Homo sapiens: one gene and its partners. The protein of the gene in region 2 binds, or shares a complex with, the protein of the main gene of each other region. Each region holds a gene or a part of one and is shown on either strand. Other genes may lie near its edges.

The links.
Region 1: NUP205 (region 2) and NUP160 share a complex: the UniProt entries of both Homo sapiens proteins name them as parts of the nuclear pore complex.
Region 3: NUP205 (region 2) and NUP98 share a complex: the UniProt entries of both Homo sapiens proteins name them as parts of the nuclear pore complex.
Region 4: NUP205 (region 2) and NUP153 share a complex: the UniProt entries of both Homo sapiens proteins name them as parts of the nuclear pore complex.

The regions. Positions count from the first base shown.
Region 1 is NC_000011.10:47,782,334-47,789,356, reverse strand, and holds part of NUP160 (nuclear pore complex protein Nup160), read left to right. Parts: intron 1-745; coding exon 746-856; intron 857-1,051; coding exon 1,052-1,175; intron 1,176-2,802; coding exon 2,803-2,904; intron 2,905-4,293; coding exon 4,294-4,435; intron 4,436-6,158; coding exon 6,159-6,284; intron 6,285-7,023. UniProt on the Homo sapiens protein: Functions as a component of the nuclear pore complex (NPC). Involved in poly(A)+ RNA transport.
Region 2 is NC_000007.14:135,552,962-135,560,935, reverse strand, and holds the start of NUP205 (nuclear pore complex protein Nup205), read right to left. Parts: upstream 3,020-7,974; 5' UTR 2,992-3,019; coding exon 2,964-2,991; intron 1-2,963. UniProt on the Homo sapiens protein: Plays a role in the nuclear pore complex (NPC) assembly and/or maintenance. May anchor NUP62 and other nucleoporins, but not NUP153 and TPR, to the NPC.
Region 3 is NC_000011.10:3,794,552-3,801,658, forward strand, and holds the start of NUP98 (nuclear pore complex protein Nup98-Nup96 isoform 1 precursor), read right to left. Parts: upstream 3,004-7,107; 5' UTR 2,849-3,003; intron 1-2,848. Other genes in the region: acyltransferase PGAP2, read left to right, coding at 3,429-3,431. UniProt on the Homo sapiens protein: Plays a role in the nuclear pore complex (NPC) assembly and/or maintenance. NUP98 and NUP96 are involved in the bidirectional transport across the NPC. May anchor NUP153 and TPR to the NPC.
Region 4 is NC_000006.12:17,633,909-17,640,931, forward strand, and holds part of NUP153 (nuclear pore complex protein Nup153), read right to left. Parts: intron 6,157-7,023; coding exon 6,031-6,156; intron 3,863-6,030; coding exon 3,245-3,862; intron 1-3,244. UniProt on the Homo sapiens protein: Component of the nuclear pore complex (NPC), a complex required for the trafficking across the nuclear envelope. Functions as a scaffolding element in the nuclear phase of the NPC essential for normal nucleocytoplasmic transport of proteins and mRNAs.

The DNA of each region.
Region 1 (7,023 bases), on a different chromosome or scaffold from region 2:
TATTGATAGAGATGACAGACAGTATTTCACAATTATAATAGTTAAATGAGGCCAGGTGCAGTGGCTCATGCCTTGTAATCCCAGCATTTTGGGAGGCCAAGGCAGGAGGGTCATTTGAGCTCAGGAGTTCAAGACCAGCCTGGGCAACATAGCAAGACCCTGTAGAAAAAAAATTTTTTAGGCTGGGCACAGTGGCTGATGCCTGTAATCCCAGCACGTTGGGAGGCTGAGGTGGCTGGATCACCTGAGGTCAGGAGTTTAAGAACAGCCTGGCCAACATGGTAAAACCCCGTGTCTACTAAAAATACAAAAATTAGCTGGGCATGGTGGTGCACGCCTGTAATCCCAGCTACTCGGAAGGCTGAGGCAGGAGAATCACATGAACCCAAGAGGCGGAGGTTGCAGTGAGCCGAGATCATGCCACTGCACTCCAGCCTGGGTGACAGATTGAGATTTGTTTCCTTAAAAAAAAAAAAAAAAGTTTAAAGAGTTAAATGAAATTACATGTAGTACCTTGTAAGCACCTCCTCAACTGCAGTCGGTTAAAATACTTTGATTTGACATGGGATATTGCATAATTTGTTTAAGTTAGCATTTATTTAGTGCCCTATTTTCTCCTTCCTTCATGCATTTGGAAATTAGATTGAATGTTACTTAATGTTCAGTGGAAATTGACAGGTTGCGTTAATCTGATGGATACTTCTTTGTATTTTGGGAGTTCAAAATATTTTTCTTTGATGTATAGCAAATCGACAAATTGAAATCCTGGAACTGGAAGATCTGGAGAAAGAGTGTTCCTTGGCTCGCATCCGCCTCACTTTGGCTCAGCATGATCCATCAGCGGTTGCAGTTGCTGGTAGGAATTCAAGAGTTTAAAGCCTCTGACTTGTCAGCACCACGAGCACATTTTAGGTCCAGGCAGTGTATGTAGCATGGTAGATGGGTATAAAGCCTGGGTTATTACTCAGAGATACTCATCAACAAAACAAAATCTTTGGTTTCATTTGTGTATACCTTGGCTACACGAAATAATCTTTTTCCATTTTCACAGGAAGTTCATCAGCAGAGGAAATGGTCACTCTCTTGGTTCAGGCGGGCCTCTTTGACACTGCCATATCACTCTGTCAGACTTTTAAGCTTCCCTTAACGCCAGTCTTTGAAGGGCTTGCCTTCAAGTATGTATAAAATTATTTTTTTATAGTCTTTTCTAATGCAAATATATTATCCTCTTGCTCAGTGTGAAACAGTCGTCATAAGCCAAGTAGCCCATATATCATTTATGATTTGAAGAAGTGTTTTGTTTAATCCATCCAAGCATTCTTAAAAAGAATTTCAGGCTGAGCGCAGTGGCTCACGCCTGTAATCCCAGCACTTTGGGAGGCCGAGGCGGGCGGATCACGAGGCCAGGAGATCAAGACCATCCTGGCTAACAAGGTGAAACCCCGTCTCTACTAAAAATAATACAAAAAAAATTAGTCGGGCGTGGTGGCGGGCGCCTGTAGTCCCAGCTACTCGGGAGGCTGAGGCAGGAGAATGGCGTGAACCTGGGAGGCAGAGCTTGCAATGAGCCGAGATCGCGCCACTGCACTCCAGCCTGGGCGACAGAGCGAGACTCTGTCTCAAAAAAAAGAAGAAGAATTTCTTGGCCAGGCACAGTGGCTCACATCTGTAATCCTACTAATACTTTGGGAGGCTGTGGCGGGTGGATCGCTTGGGACCAGCCTGGCCAACATGGTGAAACCCTGTCTCTACTAAAAATACAAAAATGAGGGTGTGGCACACAACAGTAATTTCAGCCTCTCAGGAGGCTTAGGCACAAGAATCTCTTGAACTTGGGAGGCAGAGGTTGCAGTGAGCTGAGATCGCGCCTCTGCACTCGAGCCTGGGCAACAAAGCAAGACTCTGTTTCAAAAAAAAAAAAAAAAAAAGTTTGTGAATTAGAAATAATTTTGAACTTTCAGAATTTTTCAGCCAGGTGCAGTGGCTTACGCCTGTAATGCCATCACGTTGGGAGGCCAAGGTGGGCAGATCACTTGAGGTCAGGAGTTCAAGACCTGCCCGGCCAACATGACGAAACCCCATCTCTACTAAAAATACAAAAGTTAGCCAGGAGAGGTGGCGTGTGCCTGTAATCCCAGCTACTTGGGTGGCTAAGGCAGGAGAATCGCTTGAGCCTGGGAGACGGAGGTTACAATGAGTTGAGATTGCGCCACTGCACTCCAGCCTGGGCAACAGAGCGAGACTCCATCTTAATTTAAAAAAAAAAAGAGGCCAGGTGCGGTGGCTCATACCTGTTATCCCAGGACTTTGGGAGACCTAGGCGGGCGGATCATGAGGTCAGGAGATCAAGACCATCCTGGCTAACACAGTGAAACCCCGTCTCTACTAAATATACAAAAAATTAGCCAGGCATGGTGGCATGGGCCTGTAGTCCCAGCTACTCAGGAGGCTGAGACAGGAGAATCACTTGAACCTGGGAGGCAGAGGTTGCAGTGAGCTGAGATTGCACCACTGCACTGCAGCCTGGGTGACAGAGCAAGACTCCATCTCAAAAAAAAAGAAAAGAAAAAAGAATTTTTCATCATTAATTTTATCTTGGAAGTAAATTGTCTCTTAATGCTTACTCATGTTCTTGTAGGTATCCAGTTGTGTAACTTGAGGAAGAGATGAGCCAATATTCCAGTAGTGAATTCAGCAAAAGACTAGAGATGAAGTTGTCATCTATCTCTCTAGTTTTAGTATCAAATTAAAGTGGTACGTTTCAGCGTTCAGTTTTCAAGTGTGGAACCATTTTCATTCCAGATGCATCAAATTGCAATTTGGAGGAGAGGCAGCACAAGCAGAAGCCTGGGCCTGGCTAGCAGCCAATCAGCTCTCATCTGTCATCACTACTAAGGAGTCTAGGTACAACCCTGGTGTTCAACCCTGGGTAGTTTTGCCTTTCTAAAAGCTGTAACTGTCTTTCTCTGACTAAATTGTCCTACATAGATCATTTCACTTTTTTCTTTCTTTTTGGCTAAGTTTTTATAGGGGCTGGAAAGTTTATAATTAAGGTGACATCATGTCATTTATTGTCCAAACTAGGATGTCTTTGCCTATGAAATGTCTCCTTCTCCATATCCCCCTCCTCAAAGACTTACTGTTTCATATCAGGAAAGGGTACTCTTACAGGCAAAAATCTGTATTTACTTGTTTCGGAGTGTTATCCTCCTTTTTTCCCCCATTTCTTCCACTGAGCAGTCACTGCATGGTTTCATCACAGTGTCCTCTTATATCTTGTCTCCAGCTGCTGTTCAGCAGTCTGTCACCCATCAGCCCCCATCATCCACTATACCTTCTTCAGATCTCCTCTGGTTCGTATACTTCCCCAGTGCACCCACTTTGTGTCCACGTAAATATACTTCAGCTTCTTCAGAAACCTTCTCTAACATTCCTAACCCTCAGTAAACTTCCCTTTCTGAACTGCATTTGCACTTGGTATTATACAGCTTAGCACTTTAGAGTGATAGCACTTTAGAATTTGGAAGTTCTCTGACATTAGTTTTCAACCCCTAAATTAGCACATCAGAATAACTTATTAAAATACAGATTATGAGAAATCACCCTAGTCTTCTAAGTTAGAACTTCTGCATGATTCTAATGCTTGATCAGGTTTGAGAACCAGTGTTCTGAACCAGTTTCTTGTTTTAGAAATGCAGAAACAAAGGAGTTAAATGAATTATGCATTAATAGCCAAACAAATAACGTTCATTTACTAAATATGTTTGTTTACTAAATACTAAATACGTTAGTGGGAGAGGAATATACGAACCCAAGACATCTAGTTTCTAGTGCTATCCCCATAAGTCACATTAGCCCAAATAATATTTGTTCCCATTTAGCTATATTATTGATTCAGTTGTTAATTTCTAAAGTTTTCCTTGTAAGGCTGGGCATGGTGACTCCTGCCTGTAATCCCAACACTTAGGGAGGACAAGGTCAGAGGATCACTTTAGCTCTGGAGTTTAATACCAGCGTGGACAACATAGCAAGTCCTTGTCTCTACAAAACATAAACAAAATTAGCTGGGCATAGTGGTGCATGCCTGTATTCCCAGCTATTTAGGAAGCTGAAATGGGAGAATCTGGGGCTGAGGCTGCAGTGAGCTGAGATCACACCACTCCACTCTAGCCTGGGTGACAGAGCAAGACCCTGTCTGAAAAAAAAGTTTTCCTTGTAAATACATGCTTTGAATGGTACTCTAAATAGCTATTAAGAATCTGAAACTCATTAGTCATTTTTGTTTTTTTCAAGTGCTACAGATGAAGCATGGCGACTATTATCCACTTACCTGGAGAGGTACAAAGTCCAGAATAACTTGTATCACCACTGTGTAATCAACAAGCTCTTGTCTCATGGAGTGCCTCTGCCTAATTGGCTTATAAACAGTTACAAGGTAAACGGATTATAACTTGTACAGAGTAAGAACCCACTCTTTATCATTCTGGATAACTTCATGAGATGATTAAAAATATGGACTGATTGCAGTGGCTCATACCTGTCATGCCCGCACATTGGTAGGCCAACAGGGGAGGATGGCTTGAGCCCAGGAGTTTGAGACCAGCTTGGGCAACACAGGGAGACCCCATCTCTATTTAAATTTAAAAATATATAAAGAAAAAGAAAAAGATGGGGTGATAACTTATGGGAACATATTGACTTACGTACTTTGGGAAGCTTTTCATCATAGCTAAAACCATAAGAACAATTCAAATTCATTTCCACAGTACTACTGTGTATTTAGATTTGAAGTTTCATAGGTTAGTAATTAGGTTAATGACTCCTATTATATTCACTGAACAATGAGTTTATATTTAGAACAATGAGCATATGCATGACACAGGATTTACTCTTCATACCTCAAAAAAGTCACAGGAGTCGGTGGAGTACTTTTCAAATAATATAACACTATGGCTGGTCTGAGTGCCGTGTTGTTTACAACTAATTGAGCACAACCAGTTTCCGATTGGTTCCTTCTCCACTCCCACTGTTTCACCTATTAAAAATCAAAAACGGGTTCTTAGACTGTCTGCATCAGAATTATTCAGATGGCAGTCTTCTTCAAAATACAGATTCCTCATCCTAGACTTACAGAATCAGATTATCTCAGGCTAGGAGCCAGAAATCTACATTTTAAGAAGCTCCTAATTTGATTTTGATGCATGCTAAAGTTTGAGAACTTCTGCATCTGAACCACCGTTAGTAGGATAAGGAAAGAGAAAATCTAAAGCTTAAAATCAGGAAAGTTTTTTTTGGTTTTTTTTGTTTTGTTTTGTTTTGTTTTTTTTGTTTTTGTTTTTGTTTTTTTTTTAAGGTAGAAAGGAGGCCGGGCACGGTGACTCACGCCTGTAAACCCAGCGCTTTGGGAGGCCAAGGCAGGCAGATCACCTGAGGTCAGGAATTCGAGACCAGCCTGGCCAACATGGTGAAACCCCATCTCCACTAAAAATACAAAAATTATCTGGATGTGATGGTGCGTGCCTGTAATCTCAGCTACTCTGGAGGCAGAGGTTACAGTGATCTGAGGTTGCACCACTGCCCCCAAGCCTGGGCGACAGAGCAAGACTCTGTCTCAAAAAAAATAAATAAATAGGAAAGTAGGGAAGCCAGCTAAGATGGTAAAGGTAAGATTGTGATCAAATGGGAATATAGAAAGCATGCTTAATTAATAGAGCTCTTCCAAATAGAGACTTCAGATTTAAAGCTGGTGATTCTTTGAACTTCTTTTGCATTTGTCATTCATATATTTCTTATTATGTGAATATATTGTCACTTTAGTGTTCAGGAAAAGTTTGTTGACTTTACAACTGTGGAAACTGAAGTGGAGAGAAGTTAAAATATGTCTTAGGTCATAAAACAGGGGAAGAAGGCTATTTAACAGATAAGGGCCTCCCAAACTGCCTAGAGGTAACGGCTCTTAGGGATTTAACTTTTTTTTTTTCCTAACTCCCCAGATTTGTTATCAGCTCTTATCCTAAGATACAGATGAGTAAACCAAGCCACTGGTTTAATTATATTGAGAAATACAAATGTTAGGGAATCAGCCACTCAACATTCTTTGGTCAGTACTCAAGTAGGAGGGAAATAGGTACATATTCTTAATCACTGACTTTTCACAGAAGGTTGATGCTGCTGAATTGCTTCGTTTATACTTAAACTATGACCTTTTAGAAGAAGCTGTGGATTTGGTGTCAGAATATGTGGATGCTGTATTGGGAAAAGGACATCAATACTTCGGAATTGAGGTAGGCATATACAAATGGTCCCCAATTTACAATGGTTTGACTTACGATTTTTCAACTTTACAGTGGTTTGAAAGTGATGAACATTTATGAGAAACCATACTTTAAAATACTGATGGCCGGGCACAGTGACTCATGCCTATAATCCCAGCACTTTGGGAGGCCGAGGCAGACAGATCACCTGAGGTCAGGAGTTCGAAACCAGTTTGGCCAACATGGCAAAGCCCCGTCTCTACTAAAAATACAGAAATTAGCCAGATGCAGTGGCACGTACCTGTAATCCCAGCTACTCAGGAGGCTGAGGCAGGAGAATCGCTTGAACCTGGGAGGCAGAGGTTGCAGTGAGCCGAGATCATGCCACTGCACTCCAGCCTGGGCAACAGAGCGAGACTCCATCTCAAAAATAAATAAATAAATAAATAATAAATAAATAAAATACTCATACAACCGTTCAGTTTTTCAGTTGCAGTACAGTATTCAATAAATTACACAAGATATTCAACAGTGTATTATAAAGTAGGCTTTCTGTTAGATGATTTTGCCCAACTTTATAGGTTAACGTTAAGTGTCCTGAGCATGGTTAAGTAGGCTAGGCTAAGCCGTGATGTTCATTAGGTTAGATGTATTATATGTATTTTCAACCTATGATATTTTCAACTGATAGTGGGTTTATTGGAAAACAAACCCACCATAAGTTGAGGAACATCGGTATAGGCGCATATATATATATATATATATATAT
Region 2 (7,974 bases):
TACAGTTCAGCAGTGTTCAGTGTATTCACATTGTGCAACAGATCTTCACAGCTTTTTTCATCTTGCAAAACAGAAACTCTATGCCCCCTAAACAACTCCCCACTTTCCCCTTTCCCAGCCCCTGGCAACCACCATTCTACTTTCTGTTTCTATGAGTATGACTACTTCAGATACCTCATATAAGTGGAATCATGTAGTATTTGTGTCTTGTGACTGGCTTATTTCACTTAGTATGTCCTCAAGTTTCATCCACGTTGTTTTATGTGACAGGATTTCCTTCCTTTTTAAGGCTGCATAAGGATACTATATATATGCATGTATACGTTATGTTATGTATATGCATGTATATGTATTATGCATATTGCATGTATATGACACATTTCCTTTACCCACTCAACCCAACATTCATTCCTTGATGGAAAAAGAGTTCCTTCCCTAAGACGTTTAGTTTTTTAAAAAACCAGCTCCTGACTCTTGGCTTTTAAAAATGTTTCCTATGTTGCCAATTAAACACTCCTGACACAAGGCTTTATTATACAATGTACACTCTTTGCTGCTGTTGGCAACTCCTTTTCCCTCCAATGATTTGTTTAATAATTATAATAGCTTAGGGCGAGTATGTACTAAAGGAATGTATATAGGCCAGGCACAGTGGCTCACGCCTGTAATCCCAGCACTTTGGGATGCCGAGGTAGGCGGATCACCTGAGGTCAGGAGTTTGAGACCAGTCTGGCCAACATGGTGAAACCCCGTCTCTACTAAAAATACAAAAAAAATTGGCCAGGCGCAGTGGCTCACACCTGTAATCCCAGCACTTTGGGAGGCTGAAGGGAGTGAATCACGGGGTCAGGAGCTCGAGACCAGCCTGGCCAATATGGTGAAACCCCTTCTCTACTACAAATACAAAAAATTAGCTGGGTGTAGTGGCGGGCGCCTGTAATCCCAGCCCCTCGGGAGGCTGAGGCAGGGGAATCGCTTGAACCCAGGAGGCGGACGTTGCAGTGAGCCAAGATCGTGCCACTGCACTCCAGCCCGGGCAACAGAGTGAGACTCCATCTCAAAAAAAAATTAGCCAGGCTAGCCAAGCATGGTGGCGGGCGCCTGTAATCCCAGTTACTTCAGAGGCTGAGGCAGGAGAGTTGCTCCAACCCAGGAGGTGGAGGCTGCAGTGAGCCGAGATCACGCCACTGCACTCCAGCCTGGGTGGACAGGATGAGACTCCATCTCAAAAAAAGAAAAAAAAAAAAAAGGAAAATAAATGTGTATACCTTGCGTACTGGCTCACACCTGTAAACCTACCACTTTGGGAGGCCGAGGCAGAAAGATCGCTTGAGGACAGCAGTTCGAGATCAGCCTAGCCAACATGGAGAAACCCCACCTCTACTAAAAATACAAAAATTAGCCCAGCGTGGTGGCACATGCCTGTAATCCCAGCTACTCAGGAGGCTGAGGCAGGAGAATTGCTTCAACCTGGGAGGCAGAGGTTGCAGCGAGCCAGGATCGCGGATCGCATCACTGCACTCCCGCCTGGGAGACAGAGCAAGACTCCATCTCAAAAAGAAAAATTAAAAAATAAAATAAAATAGAGAAATGTATTATATACAACCACACGTTAAGCATATCTAATTGGGAAGGAAGGACCGCAATATTAAGCATGTAACTTCATTACTAACCTTCTAATATATACGTCTAATATCATAAAATGAATTAGGTTGTGCTTAAGCAGTAGCACTAAGTAGTTTAAGCACCTAAGACTGACTTAGATCATTAGATGTTTAACTCTGGGGACATTACGTAACTATTTGAAGCCTCTATTTCCAAATCTGTAAAACGGAGTATGTAACAGTAACTACTCCAAAGGTGTATAAACGGGAACTGAATGAGATAAGCACGATAATAAGTGCAATGCTGGGATATAGTATGTGTTCAGTAAACATAGCCTTCATTATAATTTATCATAGCTTTTCTGAAATGATTTGATTTACAAAACAGATTTAGACAACTTTTCAAGAATATCAGTCCTGTGGAAAATAGAACCAATACTTTAAAAAAGAGTCCTTTTAAGTGAGATTCTCACAAGCATTTACCACACAGATATACTCTTAATCTTGCCCGCGAACTTCAGAGCATCTCAATCGAGGCATTAACATTCTAGGCACCAAATTATTTTTCCGGACTGCTCTGACCATGAAGGACTTTCTGCATCCTTGCCCCGCCTACTATGCGACAGCAGTGTACCCCAGGAAATATGACAATCAAAATGCACTCACTCATTCAAACACCACTGGAGGGCGGTACGGCCCGAATTGAGAATCACCGAAAGAGGATCCACCCCAAATCTTCCAGAGTTCCTTTACTACCTTCTAGATTCAATTCCACCCCGAAAATCTACAGCTCCAAAGGTACAAGAACATCCAGGGCCTAACCACATCCGCAGGGTTAGAAGACGTCTGCTGAAGCCCCGCCACCCTCTTCCTGACCACCTTTCAGATGGCCGACTTCATAATAGGGAGTATTCGCTGCCTGCAAGATCTCCCACCCTATAAGGAACTCCGACGCCTACTTTCAGCCTCTGCTCATGGCTGGAAAATATCTCGGGTCCTCTGGCTTCACTGTGGAAGACCTGATGCGTATTCCAGCGAAATCGGGACCACAGACGCACAGTGAAACTTGGGGGTGAGGGGGACCAGACTCAGCCCTGGGCTGTGAGAGATTACACACCTGGGTCCAGCGGCCCAAGCCTCACTGCCTGGAATCTCAAACCCCAACTCGAGGGCTGGAGCCGCAGCACCGACGCGCGCCATTCAAACTGGGGAGGGGTGGGACTCTAGGCCCAGAATTAGGGAAAAGCAGGCACCGCACATAAGTGGGGTCCTAGACTCCGAGAAACCTCACGGTCTCGTCTCTCCATGAAGACCTGGTTATCGCTCAGCTCAATCGTCTTTCTGTCTGGCCACACTTACCCGAATTTACCGCCAAAGGCGTCGCCATCTTAGAGGCGCACTAACAGAGCCCTTCTGCCGCATGGAGGCCCCGGGAAAGGGTGAGGCTGACCTGAGCGAAGCCTGAACAAAAAGGCACCACACTGTCCCCTCCACGCTGGGCCGTCCCAGGCGTACAAAAGGCTCCAGAATCTGCTCTGGGTCACAAACATCAATTTTCATTGGGATTATTCCCATTCAAATAAGGCGAGGGCAACCACTTCAGAGACACGAGGTCCTCGATCCGACGTTCATCGTGTAGTGCATCCTGGGACTTGTAGTTTCTAATGATGAGTTGGTTAAGTGGAGAGGAAAAAGTAAAGTGGAATAGAAAAAGATATTCTGAGAGTAGTTATTAAAATGACGCCCATTTATGACATTATAAAAGCCGTAAATTCAAATCATTATCTCCGCTTCAAGTTAAATCTTCCTTACAGTGGGGAGTGAAGTAAGGTATGAAGTGTCTACACCTCAAAAAGCCACTGACCGGTTACAAACTAAGTTTCCGTGACATTTCAGTTTACCAAATATATTCTGTCAACATAGTTGCGTAGAGCGAAACAAATCATAATTTTTAATTATAAAATTTTCAAACGGATACAAAATTAGAATAGCAAACACTCAGCATCAATAACGTGGCCAATTTCCCACCACGGCAGCCCCAACCCACCCTTACCACCCCAACACCCTCCCCTCCCCACCCCCCGCCCCCGATTAGTTTGAAACAGATTCCAGACATATCGTTTCATAATCACCAAGTATTTTTCTACCTGAGCACCCAAAGTAGCTGAACTCTTTCTTCAGCTGTTAAATTTTAGTTTGCTGATTTTCAAACTAAAATGTAAATAATCATTGCTATTTACAGCTATGTATTAAGAAAAATTTTATAGCCATTATCTCATTTAATCCCTGCAAACCATTCTATTGGGAAAATGATATGATTATAACTATTTATGTCAGAGACGCTCCATGTGCCTTACAATCTCATTGTATTAACTCTCCATCATTCCCATTTCACTGTTGGAAATCAGAATCAAATAATTTAGACAAAAGCATAGAGTATGTTAAGAATATCCAGAACTGGCAGGGCGCAGTGGCTTATGCCTGTAATCCCAGCACTTTGGGAGGCCAAGGCAGGCGATCACTTAAGGTCAAGTGTTTGAGACCAGCCTGGCCAGGAAGGTGAAACCCCGTCTCTACTAAAAATACAAAAATTAGCCAGGCATGGCGGCACGCACCTGTAACCCCAGCTGTTCGGAAGGCTGAGGCAGGAGAATCCCTTGAACCCGGGAGGTGGAGGTTGCAGTGAGCTGAGATCATACCACTGCACTCCAGCCTAGGCAACAGAGTGAGTGAGACTCCATTTAAAAAAAAAAAGAATATCCAGAACAGAACATTTATTCTTTTGAACAAATAATATCAAGTGACACAATGTACATTAGGTTTGAAACACAAAAATCACTGGTGATTTTTTCTAAAAGTCATTGATATATAGAGACAAATGCCAAACTACGATTAAAGTGGTTTTAAGGAGTGAAGTGGGGAAGAGAGAAAGTAAACGCAAAGGAATTTTTCAAGAAGTTTATCATGAAACTGAGAAGAATACTGAGCAGGAACTTGACAGGAAGCGGCATTCAAAGATTTCTCTCTCAGCACAGCTATTACAAGCCTTTCCCTCTCCACATGCACTTTTTAAGCCCACACGCTTCCCTCTCAGTAGATAACTTTGCTTTCTATAAAGTAACTCTTTAAATTCCAGCAACTCCTCTTCACCTGTCATTACACTTTACAAGCATTCTCTCACAGGCTTCTTCAATTCGTAGCAATTGGGATATTGCCATCATAAGCCCCTCTAAAACTGCGCTTGGTATGTTTACCAGTTATCAGTCATCAAATTCCATGGGCACTTTTCTGAATTATGATAGTTATAGGCCGGGTGCAGTGGCGCACGCCGGTAATCCTAGCACTATGGGACGCTGAGGTGGGAGAATCACCTGAGGTCAAGAGTTCGAGACCAGCCTGGCCAACATGGTGAAACCTTGTCTCTACTAAAAATACAAAATTAGCTGGGCGTGGTGACAGGACTCCTGTAATCCCAGCTACTTGGGAGACTAAGGCAGGAGAATCGCTTGAACCCCAGAGGCAGAGGTTGCAGTGAGCCGAGATCGCACCATTGCACTCCAGCCTGGGTAACAGAGTAAAAACTCTGCCTCAAAAAAAAAAAAAGAAAAAGAAAAGAAAAAGAAAGAAACAAAATTATATTATCCTGTGGCTACTGGGGCACCAATGATACTGGTTTTCCTCCTCTTTCCAGTTCTTTTTTAGTGTTTTACGTGGACTTCTCTTCCTCTTCTACCCACTAAATCTAGCTCTTCCCCTATAGTCATCTCTAGTTTCTGTCCTTTTCATTCTACATGCTTTCTGTGGGACATCTTATGGTTTCTTACTACCACCTGCTTGCTGATGAATTCTGTGTTTGTATCTCTAGTCCAGTCCTCTCTCTTGAGCTTCATATTTGTAGAACCAACTCTCTACTTCATATCTGTATTGATTGCCACACAGGCGTTTCAAAACCAACATGTCTGAAACGTAAATGATCACTTTTCCCCTAAAACTCTGCCACCTGTATCCCCACCCAGTTGCCAAAATCGGAAACCTGGGATTCTTTCTGTATTCTTCCTTCAATTGTCAAATCCTGTTCATTCTACCTCACAAATATTTCTGGAACCCTTTTCCTCTTCTCTGCTTTCTATGCCATTGTTCAAGTCTCATCTTCTTAAACTTGGTATTTTGCAATAGCCTTCTCATTTGTCTTTCTTATTTCCATCTGATCTTCCTTTCATGGACTCCTAAGGTGATTTTTATTTTTTATTTTATTTTATTAATTTATTTCAAGACACAGTTTCACTCTGTCGCTGGAGTGCAGTGGTGCAATCTTGGCTCACTGCAGCCTCCACCTCCCGGGTTCAAGCGATTCTTGTGCCTCAGCCTCCTGAGTAGCTGGGATTACAGGGGCATTTCACCACACCCGGCTAATTTTTGTATTTTTAGTACATGGCGGGGGGCGGGGGTTTGCCATGTTAGCCAGGCTGGTCTCGAACTCTTAACCTCGGCTTCCCAAAACACTGAAATTACAGGCATGAGTCACTGTGCCCAGCCTGAAAGTGATTTTTAAATACAAAAAAACATGACCGGACACGGTGGCTCACGCCTGTAATCCTAGCACTTTGGGAGGCCAAGACAGGCAGATCACCTGAGGTCAGGAGTTCGAGACCAGCCTGACCAACATGGAGAAACCCCGTCTCTACTAAAAATACAAAATTAGCTGGGCGTGGTGGCACATGCCTATAATGCCAGCTACTCAGGAGGCTGAGGCAGGAGAATTGCTTGAACCCGGGAGGCAGAGGTTGCGGTGAGCCAAGATCACGCCATTGCACTCCACCCTGGGCAAGAAGAGTGAAACTCTGTCTCAAAAAAAAGGAAAAAAAAATATGGCCAGGCGCAGTGCCTCACACCTGTAATCCCAGCACTTTGGGAGGCCGAGGCGGGCAGATCACGAGGTCAGGAGATTGAGACCATCCTGGCTAACACGGTGAAACCCCATCTCTACTAAAAATACAAAAAATTAGCCAGGTATGGTAGAGGGCACCTGTAGTCCCAGCTACTCAGGAGGCTGAGGCAGGAGAATGGTGTCAACCAGGGAGGCGGAGATAGCAGTGAGCCGAGACCGCACCACTGCACTCCAGCCTGGGTGACAGAGTGAGATTCTGTCTCAAAAAAAAAAAAAAAAAAAAAAAAAAAAACACATGATGTGGTTGTTCTGATCAAAATTTCTCAATGATCTTCTATTACTAAGAGTTATTACTAAGAGTATCATTTAAAATCTTCTTAGCAAGGCACTCATGACACTTCCTGATATGGTTCAGCCTCGTTCTTCAGCCTTCCACACTCTTCCTCAAGAGCCCTTTACTCTAATCATTCTGAACTATTTGTTATCCCCAAATACAACATGCTTTCTTTTGCCATGTATCAATGTCTTTGCACCTGCTATTCTGTCCTCCTGGACTGCCCTTCCTTCCCTTCCTTATTCACCTGTGACCACCCACCAAGTTAACCTCCAAACATGATCTGCTCTCCAAGTCTCAGGGCCTGTGTTAATGCTGCCTTCATGATGCTGTCCTTGATCCCCTGCCCCATCAAATTCGGGTGTTTCTTTGCCTGCAGACCTATTGCACTTTTTCCCATCTTTATTACGTCCCAATGTGCTATGACAATTGTCTCCTCACTAAAACTGTTAGCTTCTTGTGGTAGATTGTTATTAAAAGGCCCTCAGTGAATCACAGGTCCCTGAATTGAAGCCATTGTGTAATCATCTGCCACATTGAATCTGGGTTGGCCTTCTGACTTGCTTGGACCAGGAGAATGCAGAGGAAGTGATGTTGGGCACTTCCAAGCCCAGGATTTAAGAGACCTTGTTACTTCCTTTTTGCTCTTTTGCCCATGTAAGGAAACTCGAGCTTGTCTTTTTGAGGACGAAAGACCATGAGGAGAGAGGCCTAGCCAACCCTTAGCCATTCCAGACCCTAGCTGAAATGTTGAACATTAGTGAGGCTATTTTGGATCCTCAGTACTAGTTGATCCACCAACTGACTGTAAATGTGTGAGTCCAGACCAGATTGTAGAATTGTGAGCAAGTAAATGGCTATTGTTTTAAGTCACCGTTTTGTGATTTGTTATGCCCAAGAAATAACTGATATACTCCTAGAAAGCAACAGCTGTGTGTTTTTATATTTATATTCCATGCTCCTACCACATCTCTGGCTTGCAGTTACAATTCAGAAAAATAATTTGCAGAGCTTGGTGCTTCCACTGCCTACTGGGAGAGACCACATACAATTGTGATGAAGTGCACAGGACTTAGAGCAAGGCTTCCTGAATTCAAATTGTGTTTCAGTTACTTATTAGCTATGAAACCCTCCTGAGTACCTTGGTT
Region 3 (7,107 bases), on a different chromosome or scaffold from region 2:
CCTGAGCTCAGGCAATCCACCCGCCTCGGCCTCCCAAAGTGCTAGGATTACAGGCGTGAACCACCACACCACGCCTTTGTTTTAAGACAGGGCCTCACGCAGTTTCCCAGGCTGGAAAGCAGTGGTGCAATCACAGCACTGCAGTCTCAATCTTCCAGGCTCTGATGTTTCTTTGATTTCAGCCTCCTAAGTAGCTGGAGTACAGGTGCATGCCACCATACCTGCCTAATTTTTGTATTTTTCGTAGAGACAGGGTTTCCCCATGTTGCCCAGGCTAGTCTTGAACTTCTGGGCTCAGGAAATCCACCTGCCTTGACCTTTGAAGTGCTGGGATTACAGTAGTCAGTCACCATGCTCAGCCAATACTTATCCTTAAATCTCTGAGTTTCTTAGTTCCCTAACCTTTCAACAAATTACATAACTGCATAGTCTCATTATTGGAAATTAAACATTAGTACCATCATTCTTTACTTTCCAGGTTAACTACCACCACATAAATCATATTACAAGAAAATAATATAATTTTTTCAAAGCCGTAAATTTAGTTCCTTAAAAATTCTACTTGCTCTTAGTTATCTAGGACCTAGTAGACATAAAGTCAGGTACTGGCTGGGCACAGTGGCTCATACCTGTAATCCCAGCACTTTGGGAGGCCGAGGTGGGGGATGGCTTGAGCCCAGGAATTCGATACCAGCCTGGGCAACATAGCGAAACCCTGTCTCTACCCAAAATATACAAAAAAATATTAGCTGGGTATGGTGGTGCACACCTGTGGTCTCAGCTACTTGGGAGGCTGAGGTGGGAAGATTGCTTGAGCCCAGGAGGTAGAGGCTACTGTGAACCGAGATTGCGCCACTGCACTCTAGCCTGGGTGATGGAGTGAGACCCTATCTCATAAATAAATAAACAAATAAATGTCAGGGACCAAAGTATCACATAACATATAAACAGCAGGAACTATCTTATCTGGGCCCCATATTTCAGGAGCCTCTCTATTGACTACTGTTAGGTATAACTCCTCCATATTTGTCTATTCATTCAAGTAAACACACTTACTGAGGGCCTACTATGTGGCAAGCAACTGGACAACAAAGATAAGATGAAAATATTTTACCAGCCTAATTAAAAAAACAGCTAAAATAAAAATGATATGTGCTATAAATAGAAATATCAAATAAGTGTTATGGAAGCTTGCAGAGAAGAGAATGCCAAGAAAAGCTTCCCAGAAGAGGGTGATGCCTGAACTGAGAAAATGTCACGGAAAACATACCCTGTTCACGCTTTACTATTTAGACTACGGTTCTCTTCTGCACTACTAGTTCTGAGTTTATGCTTTGTCATCTATACAAGAACAAAGTAACAATCTTACTGATGTGTACAGAACCAAGTGTCAACTAATTCAATTTCATCAAATCTGAAGAGTCAAAAAGAATAATTTTACCCAAGTATTTCCCAGTACCTTTATCCTGTCCAACCTCTAGTTTTGGTTTTTAAATACCCTAACTTCCTCCACCAGGTAAACATACTGTAACCCAGTTAACTCGAGTTTCTTTTCGAATTTGTAAGACCGTCACAGGGAATGATCACTGCTCTCTTTTTGCTCTTTATTCCAGTTAGCTTCTTCCTCCAAAACGGAGTTTTATTTCCTCACCTTATTCTACTATAATACTTCACTTTGAATTCTGTACCTGAAAGGAGCCATGAGTTCCGAGGTACAACTACTACAAACGGACTCCTACCTGGCTTTCTAAGTCTTATCAATATTTCCTGCTTTCTATTCCAGTACTGTTATAAATCCCTAACTGACTCCGAGTCCTCATCAGCTGACACAAGTCAAAAAATTCAGATTTAGAAAGGGAAACAATGGCTTGTAGTTTTACCGATTTGTTTCCGATACATAACAACGCTGACGTTCTTTAACCATCTTCTAAGTTTAGTTCTCAAGCTCTAGGTTAGGGTACCACTAACGAAGCTTCCACCTTACCCGTGAACAGAGCTGGTAGCAACTAAACGGAAAACGCTGTGAAGACTACATCTACGTTTAGCTACCTAATGTCCATGCCGCACCGACCTCCTAAAGGGAATTCTTAATAATGGGAGACTGAAATATCCAGGGAGGGTGAGGTAGTAGAAAACTGTTTAGACTGTCAAAAATCTGGCATTGGCTAATCCTGCCTGTTACTCCGGGCCTCGGTTTCCCCATCTACAAAACTGATGTAAGGTAGGGGGATTGACTTAAACAATTTCTAAAGTCCTTATGGCTATAGTAATCCAGAAACTCAATCTGTCTCCTCATCTGGCTTTACACTGAACACGTGGGAAAATAGAAAAGAACCTTTTGCTCCACCGAACCGACTCCTATTCTCAGATATTATCTTAAAAATCTCCCAAACTTCGGACTCACCCTAATCCTCGGGGTGCCCACTTCCCTTATGGAGAAGCCAAGGCAAATAAAGCCCAGTCCCACATGACGGTCAAGGAAGTGCGGGGCAGACCGTATTCAGGGTTTCAAGGCGCTGACCCCGGAAAGGCCAGCCCACCGTGGGGTCCTTACACCACTGAATGAATGAGTACAACCAGACAGACACCCACTCGCGTGGGCAGCAACTGGAGACCTCCAGGCCTAGACCCCACTGATGTCCATTCTCTCCCAGGGCCTCCAAAGCCGGGCCTCCCGGGCTCCGGGCCCCCGGGTCCTCAGCACCGCCCCTCTCTCAGGCCAGAAGGTGCGCGCAGCGGCGCTAGACTTCGAAGCGGAGAGGCCCTGAGACGCCCCGCGCGTCCGCCCGCCCGGAAGGGGGGAGAAACCTGCCGGTCTCGGCCGCTGCAGCTCGGGCTCCCGACTTACCGCGGTTCGGTGGGGAAGGGGAAGTGTCAGGAGTCCCCTGCTGCCACCCGCCGCTCACAGAGCAGCGCGCGGCCCCCACGAAACCGTCGCCGCCGCCGCTACCACCCCTGCCACCGACCGCCGCTTCGGGCGCAGCGCGCAGAGGGCCCGACTGCGTCACACGCCGCCCGGCGTCAGAGGCTCGTTGCGGACGCTCCGCCCTCGCCGTCCGCGAATTGGTGGACGCGGCCGCCACTCTGGGTCGACCCTGTTATTCATTGGGCAACGCGTCTTTTGAAACCGAACTGAAGGGGGAAGGGGCGAGAGGGAAGAGGAGGGGCAGAAGGAGTTCGGGGAGGCACAGGGTAGGAGCGGTGAGAGGGCCGTGGAGTCCCGCCCCTCGCCGCCGCGGTTGGCGGGAGCGTGTCGTGACGTCACACAGGGCCTCTCGAAGTGGGCTTGTGAATGGCTAGATTGGGAAGCACCGGCGGGGTGTCGGGAAGGGTGGTGACGCAACATAGAGACTCCGCCCCCTTCCTTGGAGCGCCGCGACTCGGGCTGAGGGAGCTCGGGCCAATCAGAGGGACGGCCCCAGAATGGCATGGTAACTATTCGACCCTTTCCTTGCCCCGGTCCGCCGGCGCTGCTGGGAAGGCTTCCTAGTCTCTCTGCCCGCACTTCCCGCCCAGACCACGTGCGGAGCCTGAGGGCCCTCTTGGAAGGTCTGTCTGTCCAAAGAGTTTGCCCGAGGCTTCTTCAGGGCCCTAAATCCTGACCCTATTCTCTCCTGACCCATGCTCGCCCCAGCACTTTCTTTCCCTCCCTGAATTTCTAGGATGGACATTAGGAGCATTAGAGATGCCCTAAGGGACTGGCCCACCAAAGGGCCTGGTACAAATGAGGATTGTTGGAACGTCTTTCCCAGCTGCACGTGGAGAACCCCTAATTCTTTTTTTTTCTTTTTCTTTTGAGATGAAGTCTCGCGTTGTCGCCTAGGGTGGAGTGCATTGGCGCAATCTCGGCTCACTGCAACCTCTGCCTCCCGGGTTCAAGCGATTCTCCCGCCTTAGCCTCCCAAGTAGCTGGGATTACAGGCGTCCGCCACCAGGCCCAGCTAATTTTTGTATTTATAGTAGAGACGGGGATTTCACTGTGTTGGTCAGGCTGGTCTCGAACTCCTGATCTCAAGTGATCCACCCGCCTCGGCCTCCCAAAGTGCTGGGATTACAGACGTGAGCCACCTCGCCCATGAACTAATTTTTTTTTTTTTTTTTGAGATGGAGTCTTGCTCTGTCTCCTCTTTCTCCCAGGCTGGAGTGCAGTGGCACGATCTCGGCTCACTGCAATCTCCGCCTCCCAGGTACAAGAGAGTCTCCTGTCGTAGCCTCCCGAGTAGCTGGGATTACAGGCACTCGCCGCCGCGCCCAGCTGATTTTGTATTTTTAGTAGAGATGGGGTTTCACCATGTTGGCCAGGCTGGTCTCGAACTCCGGAACTCAGGTGATCCGCCCGCCTCGGCCTCCCACAGTGCTGGCCTTACAGGCGTGAGCCACCGCGCCCAGCCGAACCCCTACTTATTCTTAAAGGACGGGTATTTCAAATGTTCCCATCTTCTCAGTGATACATTTGCCAAGCTTTCACAGCGAGTTGAGCTAATGCTTGGGCAGGCCTCTGTTAAAGCCTTGTCACTTTGTATCCTATTATTTACCCTCGGTTTTCTGTGCCTTGGGCTCTTCTTGGAAGTCCTTCTGGGGCCTAGCCCATTAGCAGAAAACTGATATTACAAGAGTGAAAGGTGGGCATTTTCTAGAAACTAGACCTGTTTAGTGACTGAGAGTCTCATAGCAGGAACTGTGCGCAGAAAGCAAAGCGTATACTGGCCGGGCTGGTGGCTCATGCCTGTAATCCCAGCACTTTGGGATGCTGAGGCGGGCAGATTATTTGAGGCCAGGAGTTCGAGACCAGCCTGGCCAACATGATGAAACCCTGTCTCTACTAAGAATACAAAAATTGGTCAAGCATGGTGGTGGGCACCTATAATCCCAGCTGCTTCTCGGTTTGCTGAGGCACGAGAATGGCTTGAACCAGGGAGGCGGAGATTACAGTGAGTGGAGATCCTGCCACTGCGCTCCAGAGTGATCTCAAAAAAAATTTTTAAAAAACCTCCACCACTACTCCTTTGTGAGACATGAATGCAAAATTGAACTGGGCTTTTACCTAAAATGTAAATGAGTTTAAAGCCATCTGGGTTTTCGGTGATGGCAAGGGATTAGAGATAATTGATTTATTTGTTTGTTTAAAAAATGGGAGACTGGGAGTGGTGGCTCACGCCTGTAATCCCAGCACTGGGGAGTTCAAGGTAGGAGGATCACTTGAACCCAGGAGTTCGAGACCAGCTCGGGCAACATAGTGAGTCCCCACCTATACAAAAAATTAACCAAGGCCAGGTGTGGTGGCAAGCGCCTGTGGTCCCAGCTACTAGGGAGGCTGAAGTAGGAGGATCGTTTGAGCCCAAGAGGTTAAAGCTACAGTGAGCTGTGATTACAGTCATGCCACTCCCGCCTGGGCAACAGACGGAGCCTCCGACTGGGGGAAAAAAAAGGTGGTGGGTTGTAAAGATGGAATAAGATAGTGGATGGAAGAAACACGGTACATTGTAGGTGCTCAGTAGATACTTGAAGGAAGAAGAAAATCAATATATGGTTGGCCAAATAGTAAAGTTACTTTAAACAACTGACTGCAGCCATCTTCCCCCAACTCCTCCATCCAAAACACCCCTACTTTACAACCACACTCCCTTGCCTTTGCTGGACTTTAGAAAGTCATTAACTCTCCCTAGATAGTTACAGTAGCTTCATAACTGCCCTCTGGAACATTTGATTTCTTGCCCTTTAATCTCCAAGCCCAATTATTTTTAAGGCTCTCTTCTACTGACTTATTTTGGTGTCCCTAAGGCAGGGCACATAGTAGGTACACATTAGATATTTGATGCACGAATGAGTGAATTATTTTCTTCAGTGGGGGATTAGTAGAGGTGTTGGACTTTGAGTCAGAGAACCCTGGTTTAAATTTGGATGCAGATTTAATTTAATTCAGTTTAAATTTATTTATTAATTTAATTTAATTCAGTTTAATTTAATTAAGAAATTTGGGCCAGGCGGGATGGCTCACGCCTGTAATCCCAGCACTTTGGGAGGCCGAGGTGGGCGGATCACGAGGTCAGGAGATCGAGACCAGCCTGGCTAACAGAAGGAAACCCCATCTCTACTGAAAATACAAAAAAATTAGCCGGGCGTGGTGGCACATACCTGTAGTCCCAGCTACTTGGGAGGCTGAGGCAGGAGAATTGCTTGAACCTGGGAGGCGGAGGTTGCAGTGAGCTGAGATCGAGCCACTGCACTCGATCCTGGGCCACAGAGTGAGACTCCGTCTCAAAAAAAAAAAAAAAAAAAAGAAATTTAGGCAAATTTCCTGCCGGGAATGGTGGCTCACGCCTATAATCCCAGCACTTTTGGAGGCTGAAGCAGGTGGATCACCTGAGGTCAGGAGTTCGAAACCCGCCTGGCCAACATGGTGAAACCCTGTCTCTACTAAATATACAAAAAATTAGCCGGGTGTGGTGGCTCATGCCTGTAATCCCAGCTACTTGGGAGGCTGAGGCAGGAGAATTGCTTGAACCGGGGAGGCAGAGGTTGCAGTGAGCTGAGATGGCACCATTGCACTCCAGCGTGGGCAACAAGAGTGAAAGTCTGTCTTCAAAAAAAAAAGAAAAGAAAGGAAAGAAAAAGAAATTTGGGCAAATTTCCTAATCCCTCTGAACCTCAATTTTCTTTTGTATAAAATGGGGATAACAACCACATTTGCCTTACAGGGTCGTAGTGAGCATTAAAAGAGAGAATACATTTAAAGCACTTAGCATAGTACCTGGCACAGATAAGGCCTCAATAAATGGTATTGTTTGCATTATTTAAAAATGTATCCCAGCCGGGCATGGTGGCTCAAGCCTGTAATCCCAGCACTTTGGGAGGCCGAGGCGGGCGGATCACAAGGTCAGGAGATCGAGACCATCCTGGCTAACATGGTGAAACCCCGTCTGTACTAAAAATACAAAAAATTAGCCGGGCGCGGTGGCAGGCGCCTGTAGTCCCAGCTATTCGGGAGGCTGAGGCAGGAGAATGGTGTGAACCCAGGAGGCGGAGCTTGCAGTGAGCAGAGATCGCGCCACTGCACTCCAGCCTGGGTGACAGAGCAAGACTCCATCTCAAAAAAAAAAAAAAAAA
Region 4 (7,023 bases), on a different chromosome or scaffold from region 2:
TGGTTTTTAAATCCCCAAAAAACAGTTTCCTAATCTACACCTGCAATCTACACTTCTGAGCTTGTCACTGTAGTCTCTTAGTTGGTGACTCCACTGTCTTACTTGGTTAGCTTGGCTGGATACTCCTCCTCCTCTACATTTTTCTCAAATCTATTTCAATCAATTTCTGACTCTTCTACTGCTATTCTGGTTCATGAACCCCCCCCATTACTCCCACCACTAACCCATCTCTTGCTTGAGTAACAGCTTTTTTATTGAGACCTCTGATCCTGTTCCTTTGAAATCCATCTTCCTCTGAAGCAACCAGTGCCATGTAGTTTTTGTTTTTCCTTTCTGGTTGCACCTTTTTAAAAGATTAACTGTTCAAAAGCTTTATTCCTGCCACTCCCTGTAAGTTAGCGGACTTTCATTTCAGGCCATCTTGAGTGAACACACTCAACTCTACTCTCATGACTTCAAATATCAAAACTATGGATTAATGACCCCAAATCCGTATCTCCACCCAAAGGGTGTATCCAAAGGCCTTACATACATTTTTTTTTTTTTGAGACAGAGTCTCACTCTGTTGCCCAGGGTGGAGTAGAGTGGCACAATCTCAGCTCACAGCAACCTCCACCTCCCAGGTTCAAGCTATTCTCCTGCCTCTGCCTCCCAAGTAGCTGGGATTACGGGCATCCACGACCACGCCCAGCTAATTTTTGTATTTTTAGTAGAGACAGGGCTTTGCCATGTTGGCCAGGCTGGTCTCAAACTCCTGACCTCAGGTGATCTGCCTGCCTCAGCCTCACGAAGTGCTGGGATTACAGACGTGAGCCACCATGCCTGGTCACATTACATACATCTGAATGTTGACTTCAGCAGCTTGAAATCAACGTCTTTAATTTTATGTCCTCCATTCCTTATTCAGTTCGATCAGTACATTATCTATTGCCTGTATCAGCAGGGGAGGCGGGGGTGGTCCAATCTTTTGGCTTCCCTAGTCCACACTGGACAAAAAGAATTGTCTTGGACCACAAGTAAAATATACTAACACTAGCAACAGCTGATGAGCTTTAAAACAAATTAAAAAATAAAAAAAAAAAATAAATCGCAAAAGAATCTCATAATGTTTTAGAAAATTCACAAATCTGTGTTGAGCCTCATTCATAGCCATCCTAAGCCACATGCAGCCCACAGGTTGCACAGCTTGGCTTATCTTTTTTTTTTTTTTTTTTTTTTTGAGACGGAGTCTCGCTCTGTCGCCCAGGCTGGAGTGCAGTGGCATGATCTCGGCTCACTGCAAGCTCCACCTCCCAGATTCACACCATTCTCCTGCCTCAGCCTCCCGAGTAGCTGGGACTACAGGCACCCGCCACCACACCCGGCTAATTTTTTGTATTGTTAGTAGAGACAGGGGTTCACTGTGTTAGCCAGGATGGTCTCAATCTCCTGACCTGGTGATCCACTCGCCTCGGCCTCCCAAAGTGCTGGGATTACAGGTGTAAGCCACCGCACCCGGCCTATCATTATTTGAGACAGGGTCTCACTCTGTCACCCAGGCTGAAGCGCAGTAGCATGATCTCAGGTAACTGCAACCTCTACCTCCCGAGCTCAAGCAATCCTCCCACTTTGGCCTCCTAAGTAGCTGGGACTATAGGCGGGTGCCACCAAGCCAGGCTAATTTTTGTGTTTTTTGTAGAGACAGTGCTTCACCATGCTGCTCGGGCTGGTCTTAAACTGGGTTCAAGCAATATACCCGCCTTGGCTTCTCCCAGTGCTGGGATTACAGGCGTGAGCCACAGTGTCTGGCCTATTGCCTATATGATTGATACCACTTCCTAATCTATCTTCCGGTCTCCAAATTTTTTTGTTTTCAAATCCATTATCTAAAAAGCCAGTGACTCATCAAAAATACAAACTTGACTGTATCACTCCTCTGCTGAAAATGATGGTTCATCATTGAAAGGAGGACATCCAAGTTCTTTAATACATATGTGAGCTTCCTTTGTTCATGTGTAACAAATTACTTCCTGACTCAAAGTTTTGTTATTCCCCTTCAACTTAAAATTAATTTTGCTTTCCTGCATACATCAAGGGCTTTCTTTTTGTAGGTGAGCAGGGGAACCAGATGGGAAGACAAAAATATTTCATAATGAAGATTCTAGGCCGGGCATGGTGGCTCACGCCTGTAATCCCAGCACTTTGGAAGGCCAAGGCGGATAGATCACTTGATGTCAGGAGTCCAAGACCAGCCTGGCCAACATGGCGAAACCCTGTCTCTACTAAAAATACAAAAAATTAGTTGGGTGTGGTGGCATGCACCTGTAATTCCAGCTACTTGAGAGGCTGAGGCACAAGAATTGCATGCATCTGGGAGATGGAGGTCTCAGTGAGCCAAGATTGTGCCACTGCACTCCAGCCTGGGTGACACAGTGAGACTCTGTCTCAAAAAAAAAAAAAAAAAGGAATGAAGATTCTAAAATCTTACTCATAGGGAAATATCCAGTAGGAATCAGAAATATGGCATGAGGGCTCAGGCAAAAGGTCTAGGTTAGTAACTCAGAGCTGTACATTACAGACACAAAACTGCATATTCATGAATAATGCATTGAAAACAGTGTAATTCCCAGGATATCCATGTTATCATACATCTGTACCATATAATTATATAATATTACAAAACCATCATCCACTTCTGGATGAGTTAAAGATTCAATATGAATCTTCACTAATTCTTCCAACTTTGAACAGAGAAACAGAAAAAACTCAAAACTAACTCCATGTTTCTGGCTGCCTAGATTAGAATTAGTGATTTGGTAATTTACAATCATTGCAACAGCTACAGCCTTTTCATTAACGACTATAGTCTACCCCCTAAAGAAACCTTCCCTGTAAATGACCACTAGCTATCCTGATTTCTATTTGGAGAAGTAATATTTTACTCTGTACAAAGGTTTGAGAAATATTACCCCATTCTAAGATCTTTCAGAATCTGTATTAGTCAACTTTGAACAAGAAATTTCTGATAAAACTGTACAAAAAGAGGAGGTCGTCATATATACCAGACTAGTTAACACATAACCTATCCTAACTGAACATAAAGATCTAGCTGCAAACAAGACATTTTTACCTCAAGATAGTTTAGAAAAATTAATATGTATGAGAAATGCTCATCCTGAAACATCTAAAACAAGGATTCTTAGAATAAATTAAACTGTTCAACAGAAGTAATAAGCAAAATTACTCCATAAAGCCAAAAACATACCTGGTTTCTCAGACATACAGGACACACACTTATTGTCTTCTGCATTATTAGAAACACAGCATACTGAACACTCCCAAGATCCAATGGGCCTTTTGAATTTATCTCCAAATCCTAAGGTACCAGTGGTTACAGTGCAGCTGGAAGATGAAGCAGTCATAGTCTCAGCACTTTCCGAAACCACTGTCAATGTAAGGGCTCGCTTCACACAAGTTCCAGGTTTCGGTGTTTCACAGGCTACACATTTTATTGCTTCAGGTTTATTTTGCACTAAACAGGTATCACAATCCCAAGTGCCTATCACTGGTTTAAATTTGTCTCCAAAGCCTGTCCCTGATGCAGAAAGAGTTGTTTTGCCACTTTTATTTGGTGTTTCAATTCCAGTCTGTTTAGCAGTATCTCTGGGTGACAATTTTGCTGCTTGACAGGCTATGCATTTGTTGTCTGTAACTTTGTTCTGGAGTAGACATGTATCACACTGCCATGATGACCCAGCTTTTAAACTCTCCCCAAACCCAATTCCACTAGAAGAAAAGCTACTTATTGCTGGTCTTGTATAAACTACTGGGCTTGTTGCGGTGGGCTGAGCAGCAACAGAATCTATCTTCGGCGATGCGAAACCTACAATGAACGAAGGAGAGAGTGCAACGTTAGAGAAGCTTTATAAATCAAAGCATTAATTTGATTATTATTACTGAGAAGACGTTTACCTCACTGCACACTTACTACAATCCAAGATGAACTACTTAAGAATTGTTTTTCACTTAAGTAATCATATTTATCAATTACCTAATAAGTTACACTTAAACCATTTAAAATTCTACAAAAGATGTTTTGTTTACAGGATATCACCTTCTCCTTCAAGGAATTTCTAGTTTGATGCTTTCAATGGTACTAATTTACTGATATGTATTATTGCCATCCACATTTTGCTATATTCTGTCTCTCTACAAACACACAATACTCGCAGTCCTCTTTCTCCTTCATCCATTTCTTCTTTTAAGTGTTCCATTGGCTACACCAAATGGCTTCAATGTCATCTTTGAATTTTGTCCAGTCATAACCTACTGCTGTGGTATTCTCTACCTTCAGTAAAATCAGCTGAGCAAGTCCTTCTGTTACCAAAACTGCTGTCATTGAGTTCATTCACTCAAGCTGTATTTTACTCATGAGAATGACTTTTGTAATTGTTTACTTAGGACCAGTTAACTTTTGTCTTACACACAACACCACCATCTGTGATCTGTTTCTCCAGCCTTACCCGCCAAAGAAAAAGAAATTAAAAGGAGAGAAGATGTAGAAGGTTATTAGAGGTTTTCTAGTTCCACAAAATAATCCAGCCTAGAGCTATTTTTAGCTTAAGGACAAAATACCACATGCTTGAGTTATTCCCAGTGGGCAACGTGTTATTTTGCTTATGATTAATTTAAATCACTAAGATTGGCAAGATATTAACAGTAACCATCTCAAGGCATTACAGATTTCTTTTTCTTCTACTTTTTCAGATTTTCCTAATTTCAGTCAAATGAAGATTCTCCCCAAACATTTCCTATTTAAGAAGTAAAAAGGGAGCAGGGGGAGGTTGGCATCATGAATGCAAAGTGTAACCCCAGATACACAAGACAGACTATACACATTTGAGGCTTGCCTACTACTTGGTTAATTCCAGCACAAGCACTCTGGAGTTCTACCATAACTGCATGGAACTGTCCAAGCTACTGGACTCCTGTAGGCAGTATACTTATCTATAAAATGAGAGAGCTGGACCAGAAAAATTGAATCCTCCTAAATCCTGTTGTAAAAGCCAACCTTATTTTTTAAGAAAACCTATCTTATTACACATGGACACATCTGGTGGGTACGTTTAAATTCTTTCTGAGCTATTAGATTATCTCACAGTTTTACATTCTTTTATTCTTTTTTTCTTTTCCTTTCTTTTTTTTTTAAAGACAGAGTCTTGCTCTGTCGCCCAGGCTGGAGTGCAGTGGTTCGATCTCGGTTCACTGCAACCTCCACCTCCCAGGTTCAAGCAATTCTCCTGCCTCAGCCTCCCGAGTAGCTGGAACTACAGGTGCATGCCAGGACGCCCAGCTAATTTTTTCTCTTTTTAATAGAGATGGGGTTTCGCCATGTTGGCCAGGCTGGTCTTCAACTCCTGGCCTCAAGTGATCTGCCCGTCTTGGCCTCCCAAAGTGCTGGGATTACAAGGGTGAGCCACCGCGCCTGGCAAGTTTTACATTCTTATACTATGTATCATAAATGGAATTATGAACATCCTGTTTTCAAACAAAAAATTATTCTTATCTGAGAACTATTTATCCCCTTTCTAATTATTACCTACTAGCTTTCAAATCTTGCTTCAATTCAAGTGAGTACTGCTCCCTATGTATATGTTACAATTCAGCAGATGCTTTCCACTTGGCCTTGTTCCATATTTACCAAACTGGGGAATAATTCAAGAAGGCAGTTCAGTGCTCTCATAAGAGAAAGACATGTCTATGTGTATCATCAGGTTTACTTACTCTTATTCCTCACTGACCTACCTCTATTAATGGAGAATCCATTTCCTCCTCCTACACTTGCCTATTAGAAATTTCATTTTAGTATAGAGTCCTTTGGCTTGTAAGATATTTCCAGCAAAAGAATTACACCTAACTACATCTCTATTCAAAAGTAAATCTCCTACCAAACTAGTCAGAAATTTTTAAAAGCCTAAAGTATAATACAAAATGACATTAAATTGAGATCATGAGTTTGTAATCAAAAGGCTTATCTTTTAATTATCTTACCAGGGCTTTTCAGAATATCTAGAACACTTCCTTCTTTCAGGATTTCTGCAGGTCTAAAAGGACCCTCACAATCTTCAGGTGGTGTCTTCTTACAATTTGTACTGTTCACTGTAGTGACATGATGAGCTGTAATTTTTTTAAATTTAATAACATTATGCCAAATAAAACACTGGACTCTCAAATGCATTTTTAAAAATCTTTCAAAACCATCTTTTGGATTAATTTCTAAAAGTTCATGAAAAAAGTCACTTTAATTCAATAAACAAATGACTTTACAGGGATAATTTGCCATTACAAGGAGATAAAAACACTATTCCCATACTATATAACTTCCCCCACCAATAAAAAGGCAAAAAAATATAAACTATAATTATCGTCCAATTAACTGACTGATAATCAAAACAATCAAACTAAAAAACTGGAGAGGATATGGCAACTAGGGCAAGCCCATCCACTGCATGAAATATCTGATTACACAACAATTTACAAAACTAATCAAAAAAAGTAATTTTCAACTGAGCAATTATTTCATTTTTAGAAATTCACACTATTAATATAATTGAAAATATCCTTCAGTTATAATATTGAAAACCTATATGGTAAAATATTAAATAAGGGTATATGGTTACATAAATTACATAACAGTGACATGATGAAATACTTATGCAGCCACAGAAATCATTCTTTTTCAAAACAGAGAGTGAGTGTCTTGTTGTCAGCAAGGCCGGAGTACAGTGGTGCAATCATAGCTTAATGCATCCTCAAACTCCTGGGCTTAAGCAATCCTCCCACCTTAGCCTCTCAAGTAGCCAGGAACACAGGCGCATGCCACCACATCTAGCTCATTTTTTTTTTTACTTTTTTGTAGACATGGGGTCTCACTATGGCTGGCCAGACTGGTCTTAAACTCCTGGCCTCAGGTGATCCTCCCACATCGGCCTCCCAAAGCACTGGCATTACTGGCATGAGTCATCATGCCTGGCCCACAAAAAT